3 linked regions of the Homo sapiens genome follow. The protein of the gene in region 1 purifies or fractionates together with the protein of each later gene. This does not show direct contact. Each region holds a gene or a part of one and is shown in the gene's direction. Other genes may lie near its edges. The genes, in order: SMS, ETFA and MTRR.

Region 1 (3,500 bases):
GAGTGTCCTTAGTGTGAAAATAAAGTCACTGCCTCATTCATCATTTTGTTAAATTTGTGATACCCAAGTTAGTATTATAAAACCTTTGTTTGTCTTAATCCTTTCTTTAAAGTATTACTATTTCAGAATTCTTTGATATACCCAAATTCTCCTTAACCTGTTGCGGACATTGACCAAATGGTGATTGATGGGTGTAAGAAATACATGCGAAAAACGTGTGGCGATGTCTTAGACAATCTTAAAGGAGACTGCTATCAGGTAATTGTTTTCTGGATAATGTAGTTTTAAGTGAACTAATAATATAAGTTATTGATCAGAATTGTGCCTTATTAAAACAGCTTTTAGTATAGTTGGTTGAGAAGATAAATACATCATCTGTCTCTTCATATGAGTTATATGTATATTTGTATTTAGGGTGCACACGTACCAATGATGGGAAAGCACCAACTCCAGATTCTCTGAATTAAATAAAATTAATTCTTTTTTTTTTTATTATACTTTCAGTTCTACGGTACATGTGCAGAATGTACAGGTTTGTTACATAGGTATACACGTGCCATGGTGGTTTGCTGCACCTATGAACCCATCATCTAGGTTTTAAGCCCTGCATGCGTTAGGTATTTCTCCTAATGCTATCCTTCCCCTAGCCCCCTACCCCCGATCGGCCCCGGTGTGTGATGTTCCCCTCCCTGTGTCCATGTGTTCTCATTGTTCAGCTTACACTTAGGAGTGAGAACATGCGGTGTTTGGTTTTCTGTTCTTGTGTTAGTTTGCTGAGAATGATGGTTTCCAGCTTCATCCATGTCCTTGCAGAGGACATGAACTCATTCTTTTTTATGGCTGCATAGTATTCCATGGCATATATGTGCCACATTTTCTTTATCCAGCCTATCCTTAATGGGCATTTGGGTTGGTTCCAAGTCTTTGCTATTGTGAATAGTGCCGCAATAAATATACGTGTGCATGTGTCTTTATAGTAGAATGACTTATAATCCTTTGTATGTATACCCAGTAATGTGATCGCTGGGTCAAATGGTATTTCTAGTCCTAGATCCTTGAGGAATCGCTACGCTGTCTTCTACAATGGTTGAACTAATTTACACTCCCACCAACAGTATAAAAGTGTTCCTATTTCTCCTCATCCTCTCCAGCATCTGTTGCTTCCTGACTTTTTAATGATGGCCATTCTAACTCCAGCTTGGGCTGCAGAGCGAGAATGTCTCAAAAAAAAAAAAAAATCTTAATAAAAAAAAAAACCTTAATAATAATAATAAAAAAGAAACCTTAGTAGTAAAAATCAAGTAGTACACAAAGCTAAAGATTGCTTTTACATATGTACAAAATTTCCAAGTAAAATAATAAGCTAAATCTGGCAAATTAAGTCTATATTATGCTCAAGTAGGATTTAGTTAGAAGTGTAAAGATTTCAATTTTAAGAAATCTGTCAACTTAATTCGTTAGGTGAATAATTTAAAGGAGGAAAATAACAGATGACAAAGAATTTGAGAATATTTAGCAGTCATTTTAAATAAAAACTAATGCAGTATAGCCATGTAAAATTAGCCAGGTGTGGCGGCGTGTGCCTGTAATTCCAGCTACATGGAAGGCTGAGGCAGGAGAATCGCTTGAACCCGGAAGGTGGAGGTTGCAGTGAGCTGAGATTGCACCACTGCACTCCAGCCTGGGCAACAGAGGGAGACTGTCTCCAAAAAAAAAAAAAAATATATATATATATATATATATATTTCCATCTAACAAATCTGTACATGTACTTCCTGAATCTAAAATAAAAGTTAAATTATAAATTACTTGAATAAAATAAAATTGCAATAGAGATGAAACTACCTGAACGTTAATAGAAACTTAGGTTGTGGTAAATAGAAAAATAGAAAATATAATAGATAGCAAAAGCCATTTCCACTGAAAATAGGAAGAAGATGAGGATGCCTATTATCTTTTTCAACATTATTTTTTGAGGTAGCTGAGATAGTAAAGTAGATGAAAACAGTATAAATCTAATTATTTGTAGATGATGTGAATACTAGAAAATCCAGGAAACTTACGTAGGAAATTATTTGAATTAATGAGAATTTGATAAAGTGATTGGATAAAGCCAGCCTAGATTTTTTCTCTATACTAAATGCTAACTCATTTAAATAGGATTTCCTTCCCACCCATTTCCTTTCAAAGTAATCAAGTGTTAAATTCCTAGGAATATATTTAACAAGAATGGTATTGTGAGACTGGTATGAATTATGTTAAGATGTTATTGAAAGACATCAAAGTCTGAATATGTGGAGAGGCATGCTGTATTTCTTGTATTGAAAGAACAGGCCGGGCTTGGTGGCTCACCTGTAATCCCAGCACTTTGGGAGGCCGAGGTGGGTGGATCACTTGAAGTCAGGAGTTGGAGAACAGCCTGGTCAACATGGTGAAATCCTGTCTCTACTAAAAATACAAAAATTAGCCCGACGTGGTGGTGGGTGCTTATAATCCAGCTACTCTGGAGGCTGAGGCAGGAGAATTGCTTGAACCCGGGAGGTGGAGGTTGCAGTGAGCCAAGATTGCACCACTGCACTCCAGCCTGGGTGGCAGAGCAAGACTCCGTCTCAAAAAAAAAAAGGAACAATGTCTATTCTTCCCAATTTATTATGAGTAATCCCAAGGAGGGGGGAGGGGTTTAAAAGTAGACCAACTGATTTTGAAGTTGATTTGTAAAAATAAGTATCTAAGAATACCCAAGAAAACTTGAAAAAAGAATCATAGTGTGAAGCGAAATATGTCCTATTTGTTGTTAATGTACTATAAGGCACGATAATCAAATAGGAAGTATGAAAGGAATACACAAGGACCTAGGAATGTCAAAGGAACTTGAACAGGTCTGAGTATGTATTCCTACACACTGCTAATATGGTCTAAGATACATTTCAGTTGACTTGGGAAAAGCGTTAGTTGAGTTAGTGTGTGATGCCGGTATAAGAAGTTATCCATCTGCATGAGAACCAAGTTAGCTAACAATAGAAATAGGAATTTTGGTGACTTAGGCTCTAAATGTAAAAACTAATACATTTAAGACAATTTAGAGTACTTAACCTTGGAGTTCAGAAATCTCTTAAAGATAGGACACTCAAACTGTTAATGGTATTATAATGTTGTCATTACCAAGCCAAAAGTCAGACTAGAAGAAAGACTAGTAACAAGCATGACAGGGAATTGATCCCTTGAATAATGCAGAGTCCCTACAACTTAGAAATGAAGTTAGCTAAATTTAAAAAGGTATAGAGGATATTTACTGGTACTTCTCAGAATAAGTCAAATAACCTGTAAAAAGTACCACAAGACAGGCCGGGCGCGGTGGCTCACACCTGTAATCCCAGCACTTTGGGAGGCTGAGGTGGGCGGATCACGAGGTCAGGAGATCGAGACCATCCTGGCTAACATAGTGAAACCCCGTCTCCACTAAAAAAATACAAAAAAAAATTAGCTGGGCGTGGTGGCGG
Region 2 (3,732 bases), on another chromosome or scaffold:
TTGAGACAGAGTCTCACTGTTGCCCAGGCTGGAGTGCAGTGGCGCCATCTCGACTCACTGCAGCCTCTGCTGCCTGGGTTCACGCCATTCATCTGCCTCAGCCTCCCAAGTAGCTGGGACTACAGGTGCCCGCCACCACGCCCGGCTAATTTTTGTATTTTTAGTAGAGACGGGGTTTCACCATGTTAGCCAGGATGGTCTCGCTCTCCTGACCTTGTGATCTGCCCGCCTCGGCCTCCCAAAGTGCTGGGATTACAGGTGTGAGCCACCGCTCCTGGCCGAGGATTTTCTTTAGATAAAAACATCACTTCATTTTTTAGTTTTGTCTAAAATCATTTATCATTGCTGTATTTTTTCCCCCAATTTTTTTTTTTTTTTTTTGAAATAGAGTCTTACTCTCACCCAGGCTGGAGTGCAGTGGTGTGATCTTGACTCGCTGCAGCCTCAACCTTCTAGGCTTAAATGATCCTTCCATCTCAGCCTTCCAAGTAGCTGGGGCTACGGGAATGCGCCACCACATCTGACTAATTTTTTAATTTTTATCTTTCATAGAAACAGGGTCTTACTGTATTGTCCAGGCTGGTCTTAAACTCCTGGGCCAATTTTAGGTTTGCAGGGTATCTGTGCAGATTTATTATGAGTAAACCGTGTGTCCTGGGGGTTTGATGTACAGATTATTTTGCCGCCCAGGTAATGAACATAGCATCCAATAGGTAATTTTTTGATTCTCACCCTGCTCCCACCCTCCACCCTCAAATAGGCCCAGGTATCTATTGTTCCCTTCTTTGTATCCATAGGTATTTGATGTTTGGCTGCCACTTACAAGAGAGAACATTCCATGTTTGGTTTTTCTGTTCCTGCATTAATTCACTTAGGATAATGGCCTCCAGCACTGTCCATGTTGCTCTAAAGGACATGATCTCATTCTTTTTAATGGCTGTGTAGTATTCCATGGTGTATATATACCACATTTTCTTTACCCAGTCCATCCCTTGCATGGGCATCTAGGTTGATTCCATGTCTTTGCTACTGTGAATAGTGCTGCCATGAACATGCACATGCATGTATCTTTATGGTAGAATGGTTCATATTCCTTTGGGTATATTCCCAATTATGGTATTGCTGGGTCGAATGTTCTAAGTTCTTTGAGAAATCGCCACATTGCTTTCCGCAGTGGCTGAACTAATTTACATCCTCACCAGCAGTATATAAGCGTTCCTTTTCTCTGCAACCTTGCCAGCATCTGTTGTTTTTTGAGTTTTAAATAATAGCCATTCTGACTGGTGTGAGATGTCTCATTGTGGTTTTTATTTGCATTTCTCTAATGATTAGTTAATGTTGAGCATTTTTTTATATGCTTGTTGGCCACATATGAGAAGTGTCTGTTGATGTCCATTGCCCATTTTTTAATAGGGTTGTTTTTTGCTTGTTGATTTAAGTTCCTTATAGATTCTGGTTATTAGACGTTTGTCAGATGCATAGTTTGCAGATTTTTTTTTACCATTCTGTAGGTTGTCTGTTTACTTTGTTGATAGTTTATTTTGCTGTGCAGAAGCTCTTTAGTTTAATTAGGTCTCACTTGTAAGTTTTTATTTTTGTTGCAATTTCTTTTGGAGTGTTCGTCATGAAATCTTTGCCAGGGTCTATGTTCAAAATGCCATTTCCTATGTTTTCTTCTTGGGTTTTTATAGTTCGAGGTCTTACATTTAAATCATTTTTTGTTTGTTTGTTTTTTGAGATGGAGACTTGCTTTGTCACCCAGGCTGGAGTGCAAGGGTGCAATCTTGGCTCACTGCAACCTCCGCCTCCTGGGTTCAAGCAATTCTCCTGCCGCAGCCTTCGGAAGAGCTGGGATTACAGACTCCTGCCACCACGCCCAGCTAATTTTTGTATTTTTAGTAGAGACAACAGGGTTTCACCATGTTGGCCAGGCTGGTCTCGAACTCCTGACCTTAGGTGATCCACTCGCCTCGGCCTCTCAAAGTGCTGGGATTGCAGGTGTGAGCCACTGCACCTGGCAGAAGTTTTTTTGTTTTGTGTTGTTTTGTTTTTAAGTAGAGTTTGGCCTGTGTGGTAGTACACATCTGTAGTCCTAGCTACTCAGGAGGCTGAGGCAGGAGGATCCCTTGGGCCCAGGAATTGGACGCCAGCCTGGGCAACATAGAAAGACACTGTCTCTAAAAATAAAATTTTTTGAAAATAGACTTTATGTTTTAGAGCAGTTTTAGGTTCACAGCAAAATCCAATGGAAAGTACAGAGAGTCTTCCTGGTCCACACACCCACAACCTCCTCCACTGTCAACATACAGCACCAGAGTTGTCCATTTGTTACAATTAATGAATTTACATTGACATCAGCATTTCCCAGAGTCCATAGTTTACATTAGGATTCACTCTTTGTGTTGTACCTTCTATGGGTTTGGACAAATGGATAATGACAGGTATCTACCATTATTATATCATACAGAATAGTTTCACTGCCCCCGCCCCCACTCCCCCTGGAAAAAACAAAACAACAACAACAAAAAACCTCTATGCTTTGTTCTCCTAATCCCTGGCAGTCACTGATCTTTTTACTGTTTCTATAGTTTTGCGTTTAACAGAGTGTCATATAGTTGGGATTAGACAGCATGTAGCCTTTTCAGACTGTTTTTTTTTTCACTAAGTAATATGCATTCAAGGTTCCTCCATGTCATTCTCATTTCTTGTTACTGCTGAATAAGATTCCATTGTATGAATATTTATTCACTTACTGAAGGACATTTTGGTTGCTTCCAAGTTTTGGCAGTTATGAATAAACCTGCTGTAGACGTCTGGTTTTTGTGTGGACCTAAGTTTTCAACTCATTTGGGTACGTACAAAGGAGTGCAGTTGCTAGATTGTATGGTAAGATTATGTTTAGTTTTATAAGCAACTGCCAAACTGTCTTCCAAAGTGGCTGCACCAGTTTGCATTTTTACCAGCAATGAATGAGAGTTTCTGTTGTTCCACATCCTTACTAGCATTTGGTATTGTCAGTGTTTTGGTTTTTTACCATTCTAATAAGTGTGTAGTGGTATCTCGTTTTAATTTGCAATTTCCTAGTGAGCATCTTGATGTTGAGCATCTTTTCATATGCTTCTTGGCCATCTTCTTTGGTGAGGTACCTGTTCAGATCCTTTCCCCCTATTTAAATCAGATTGTTCATTTTTTATGTTGACTTTTAAGGGTTCTTTATTTTTTTTAGATAAGTCTTTTATCAGATATGTCTTTTGCACATATTTTGTCCCAGTCTATGGCTTGTGTTCTCATTCCTTTGATGAAGAGGTGTTTGTTTTGTTTTGTTTTGTTTTGTTTTGAGATGGAGTCTCTCTCGCCTAGGCTGGAGTGCAGTGGTGTGATCTCGGCTCACTGAAACATCCACCTCCAGGGTTCAAGTGATTCTTGTGCCTTAGCCTCCTGAGTAGCTGGGACTATGGCGTGTGCCACCATGCCCAGCTAATTTTCGTATTTTTAGGAGAAATGGGGTTTCACTCTACTGACCAGGCTGGTCTCGAACTCCTGACTTCAGGTGATCCATCGGCCTCGGCCTCCCAAATTGCTGGGATTACAGGCGTGAGCCACTGCGACTGGCCAACGAAGAGTTCTTTAAAAAAAATGTTCACTTCCCTTATTGGTGTCAGCTCTGTGCTGGATACTGGAGTCTAGGGTTATAGTGGTAAGAAATATCAGACATTGCTCCTGTACTCAGTA
Region 3 (3,732 bases), on another chromosome or scaffold:
TTGTTTAGCTAAATGTCTAAAAATGAGCTTCCTATAAAATTTTCTTTTTCAAAGCTAACGAACATCATATTTAATTGAAAGAGGCTGATGCAGTCTGTGCTGTGTGCAGAATGCAGAAATGCCCCCATCTGAGCAAGTCCAGATCGAGGGTCCTTCAAGAGCAAAAGGGGACTGTGTCGTACCAGTGCAAATCAACATACTCATGGTACTGCCAGGCAGAGAACCATCATCCCATTTCAGATGAAGAGTAACCCATTTTTTTGCCCAGAGTGACTCTTCTAGTCCTCATACTCCAACAGAAGAGACCTCAGCATTGTCCCTGAGCAGTCGATGTCCTAGGACCTCTCTGTGGCTCTCAGGAAGGGATTGAAAATGCTTGCTAGGGGTGAAGACTAAGCGCTTTATAGGACTTCAAAGCCTTTATTACTTTCTTGTGCTTGTAACTTTGTCATCTCCTTTCCCATAGTGGTAAGTAGTTATGCCTTTAACATTTGCATTTTTCTTTGGTGACACCAAAATGTATATTGTCCTTTTTACTCTTGGGCCAGCAAGATCCTTTTCGATGCCCAGTACAATTAAAGGCACCCTTCTTTGCAAGTCAGGGCCTGATTTCTCCTCCTTTTTCTTAGTGTTTTTTCCACTTAGGACCTCCCCAAAATGCTAAGACCGTGTTGCTGAATGAGGCTGCTCTTCTCACCATCCTGTCCTCAGGCTGGCCCTCTCACCCTCTTCAGTGAAGTCTTCGAGAACCATCAGCAGGAATAGGATGACAGAACACAGGGTGGGGAGTTCTAAGTAGTATTAGAAAGTTCTCTTATCGCATACTAATTTATTTCAATTCTTTTCGTAGATTTTTTGTTACCTTTTAGAATGTTAGAATGTTTGTAACAATACCACATTACGTAGTTATATAAAAAAATTAAAGTCATTGGGACTTATAAAAAATTATATTATTTTCTAATTAAGAACAATTAAAATATCTAAAGCTTGATATTAAGTTGAACACCCTACTAAACCTTATTTTGATGTTTAAAACTCTACGCCATTATACATAGACCTTTTCATATTTTCAATTAAGTAACTGCTAAAAATAAAACATACCAAAACATAAAACATTTCAAAGTTTATTAGTGGATAGTTCAATATTTAAATACAGATTATTTAACCTGCTTTTGAAAGAATACCTACGTATTTTGAAATCACTGATTTTTTTTGATAAATTTTTAAAAACCAAACACTTTAATTATTTTAAATGTAAGATGGAAAATATTTCAAGCCTAAGCATTTTCAGTAATTCTTGAAAGAGTAGCCTTTAATCTTTTTGGGATCATGACTTTATTTTAAATCTGAAAACTGGGCACCTCCCTGCAGAAAACTGCGCACCTCCCTGCAGAAAACTGCACATATACCTAGTAAGGGTTTGCTGAGCTCCTCACCTCTGAAGCCAACTTATGGACCCATTCCTAGAAGCCTTTGCTTTTAAAATTCGCCTTTGGGTAGAAATACTGATTTAAGAGTAAGAAAATGCATCTTATCTGGTTTTTAACTTTAGGAGTTGAAAGAAAAAATAGTAATATTTTACTTGAACACAAAGTTCAAGTGCTTAACTATGATTTAAAACTAGAACATGATTTGAGTATTCTAAATAAGACATGGAATTTTTTTTTTTTTTTTTTTTTTTAGGTAAGGTTATTTTCAGTAGTAGTGAATTAATAATTGCTTGTTTTTATTTTTTTCTAGAACATCTTCCTAAACTTCAACCCAGACCATATTCGTGTGCAAGGTACTACTATTTATTCACGTAATATATAGCATTGTTTCTCCAAAATCTTAGACTCAGGCTTCCAGATCATTAGAGTTTACTAATTTATTCAGTGAAAACTTACCTGCTTTATGGAAGACAGTACCAGGCATAATAAAGCAGAAGAAGAATCATAGAGCTCCTGTCCTCTGGGACTTCATAGAATTTAACATCTTGGGTGGCTTCCCATGGCCCAGTACTATGTTTCCCCACTTAGGAGTCTCAGGCTCCTCCACATGCTTCCTGTGTCCGTGTGCCCAGCCACCTTCACTGAGTGGCAGCCGGAGGCAGGGGAGACAGAAAAGTTCCACTATAAAACATTTGATGAGTCCGGGCGTGGTGACTCACTCCTGTAATCCCAGCACTTTGGGAGGCCGAGGCGGGCGGATCATGAGGTCAGGAGATCAAGACCATCCTGGCTAACACGGTGAAACCCCGTCTCTACTAAAAATACAAAAAATTAGCCGGGCGTGGTGGCAGGCGCCTGTAGTCCCAGCTACTTGGGAGGCTGAGGTGGGAGAATGGCGTGAACCCGGGAGGCGGAGCTTGCAGTGAGCCAAGATCGAGCCACTGCACTCCAGCCTGGGCGACAGTGATACCCTGTCTCAAAAAAATAAAAAAAAAGAATATTTGATGAGCACTGGCTTATAGGATTCTCCCTGTGGCCTTCATTCCATTGCACAGCCTCTACCGTTTTCCCGTCTGGCTCTCTGTTTTGCCTTTCAGTAATAATACAAGAAGGTGCACCATTCTTTTGGTTGAAAGGGGAATTAAGAATGAACTCAAGTTCTTTCGCATTATTTACCGTGTAATGTGAAAAGAAATCTACTTTTGTAGGGATGTCTTTTAAAGATGTTTTTACTTTGAATTTTTAGTTTTCTCCTTTCTGGGTGTATACTTCAGTCACTTTCAAGTTTTATGATCTTACCAGTAGATAATGTATGGATATTTGTTAGAATTTATCCCCATTTCTTCACATCTTTATAATAAATATTGAGTGAATGAATCCTTTACATGAAGATCCTTAGGGCATATTAGATTTTATAAATATCATCTAGTCCTAGTGCAAGCAAATAAAATTGGAAACTTTCTTGAATAACAAAATGTAGGGTGTGAGAGTGTGAAGGTTGGGGGCAGTTTTTAATTACGTAATAATGGCTTTCCTCTGTGAGGATTTGGAAGGTAGATTAGAGCCTATAAGGAAATATTTCTAAACTGAATAAAAGGATTGGTTTGACCCATATGTGTAGTAGTACTGATATCGAGTTCAAAACTTGTCTGTGTATCTTTGCAGCTCAAGTTTATTTCACCCAGGAAAGCTCCATTTTGTCTTCAACATTGTGGAATTTCTGTCTACTGCCACAACAGAGGTTCTGCGGAAGGGAGTATGTACAGGCTGGCTGGCCTTGTTGGTTGCTTCAGTTCTTCAGCCAAACATACATGCATCCCATGAAGACAGCGGGAAAGCCCTGGCTCCTAAGGTAAGAAATTAGTACCTTAACCTCAGCATTGTTAACTCATACTCTTTGTTTCATTAGAAAAAACAGTGTTGTCTCACCCACATCATTCATTACTGTCATAAGAAAATTTATGCTGTTCTTGAATTTTAAAATCTCTATTGCAAGAGCAGAAAACTGTTTACTTCCATGTACTCTTTAACTAGTGTGTGTATTTTCTGAATGTATAAAGCATGAATTTTATATAGTACGGTCTTTGCTTGTCCTATTCATGGAAAAGAAGACCTTTTATGTTGATATTCTTGGTACATTGGCCTGGGGAGGGGTGGAGAACTGTCTAGGAAGTATTTAAGGGGGGTGATGAGAGACAGTCTCATTTTATGTTTAAGATGTATACTGCCTCTCAAATAAGTAGTTTTACATTGGGAGTCTGAGGGCAACTAAAGATTAATTTTATATTGTCCAATTTTGGCT

Evidence for each region.
Region 2: the proteins of SMS (region 1) and ETFA purify together in Homo sapiens (affinity purification with mass spectrometry; one large-scale study listed by BioGRID and IntAct). This does not show direct contact.
Region 3: the proteins of SMS (region 1) and MTRR fractionate together in Homo sapiens (co-fractionation; one large-scale study listed by BioGRID). This does not show direct contact.

What each region holds. Positions count from the first base shown.
Region 1 is NC_000023.11:21,978,709-21,982,208, forward strand, and holds part of SMS (spermine synthase), read left to right. Parts: intron 1-168; coding exon 169-258; intron 259-3,500. UniProt on the Homo sapiens protein: Catalyzes the production of spermine from spermidine and decarboxylated S-adenosylmethionine (dcSAM).
Region 2 is NC_000015.10:76,301,311-76,305,042, reverse strand, and holds part of ETFA (electron transfer flavoprotein subunit alpha, mitochondrial), read left to right. Parts: intron 1-3,732. UniProt on the Homo sapiens protein: Heterodimeric electron transfer flavoprotein that accepts electrons from several mitochondrial dehydrogenases, including acyl-CoA dehydrogenases, glutaryl-CoA and sarcosine dehydrogenase.
Region 3 is NC_000005.10:7,889,632-7,893,363, forward strand, and holds part of MTRR (methionine synthase reductase), read left to right. Parts: intron 1-629; coding exon of another isoform or gene 630-737; exon of another isoform or gene 738-781; intron 782-1,740; coding exon 1,741-1,783; intron 1,784-3,095; coding exon 3,096-3,282; intron 3,283-3,732. UniProt on the Homo sapiens protein: Key enzyme in methionine and folate homeostasis responsible for the reactivation of methionine synthase (MTR/MS) activity by catalyzing the reductive methylation of MTR-bound cob(II)alamin.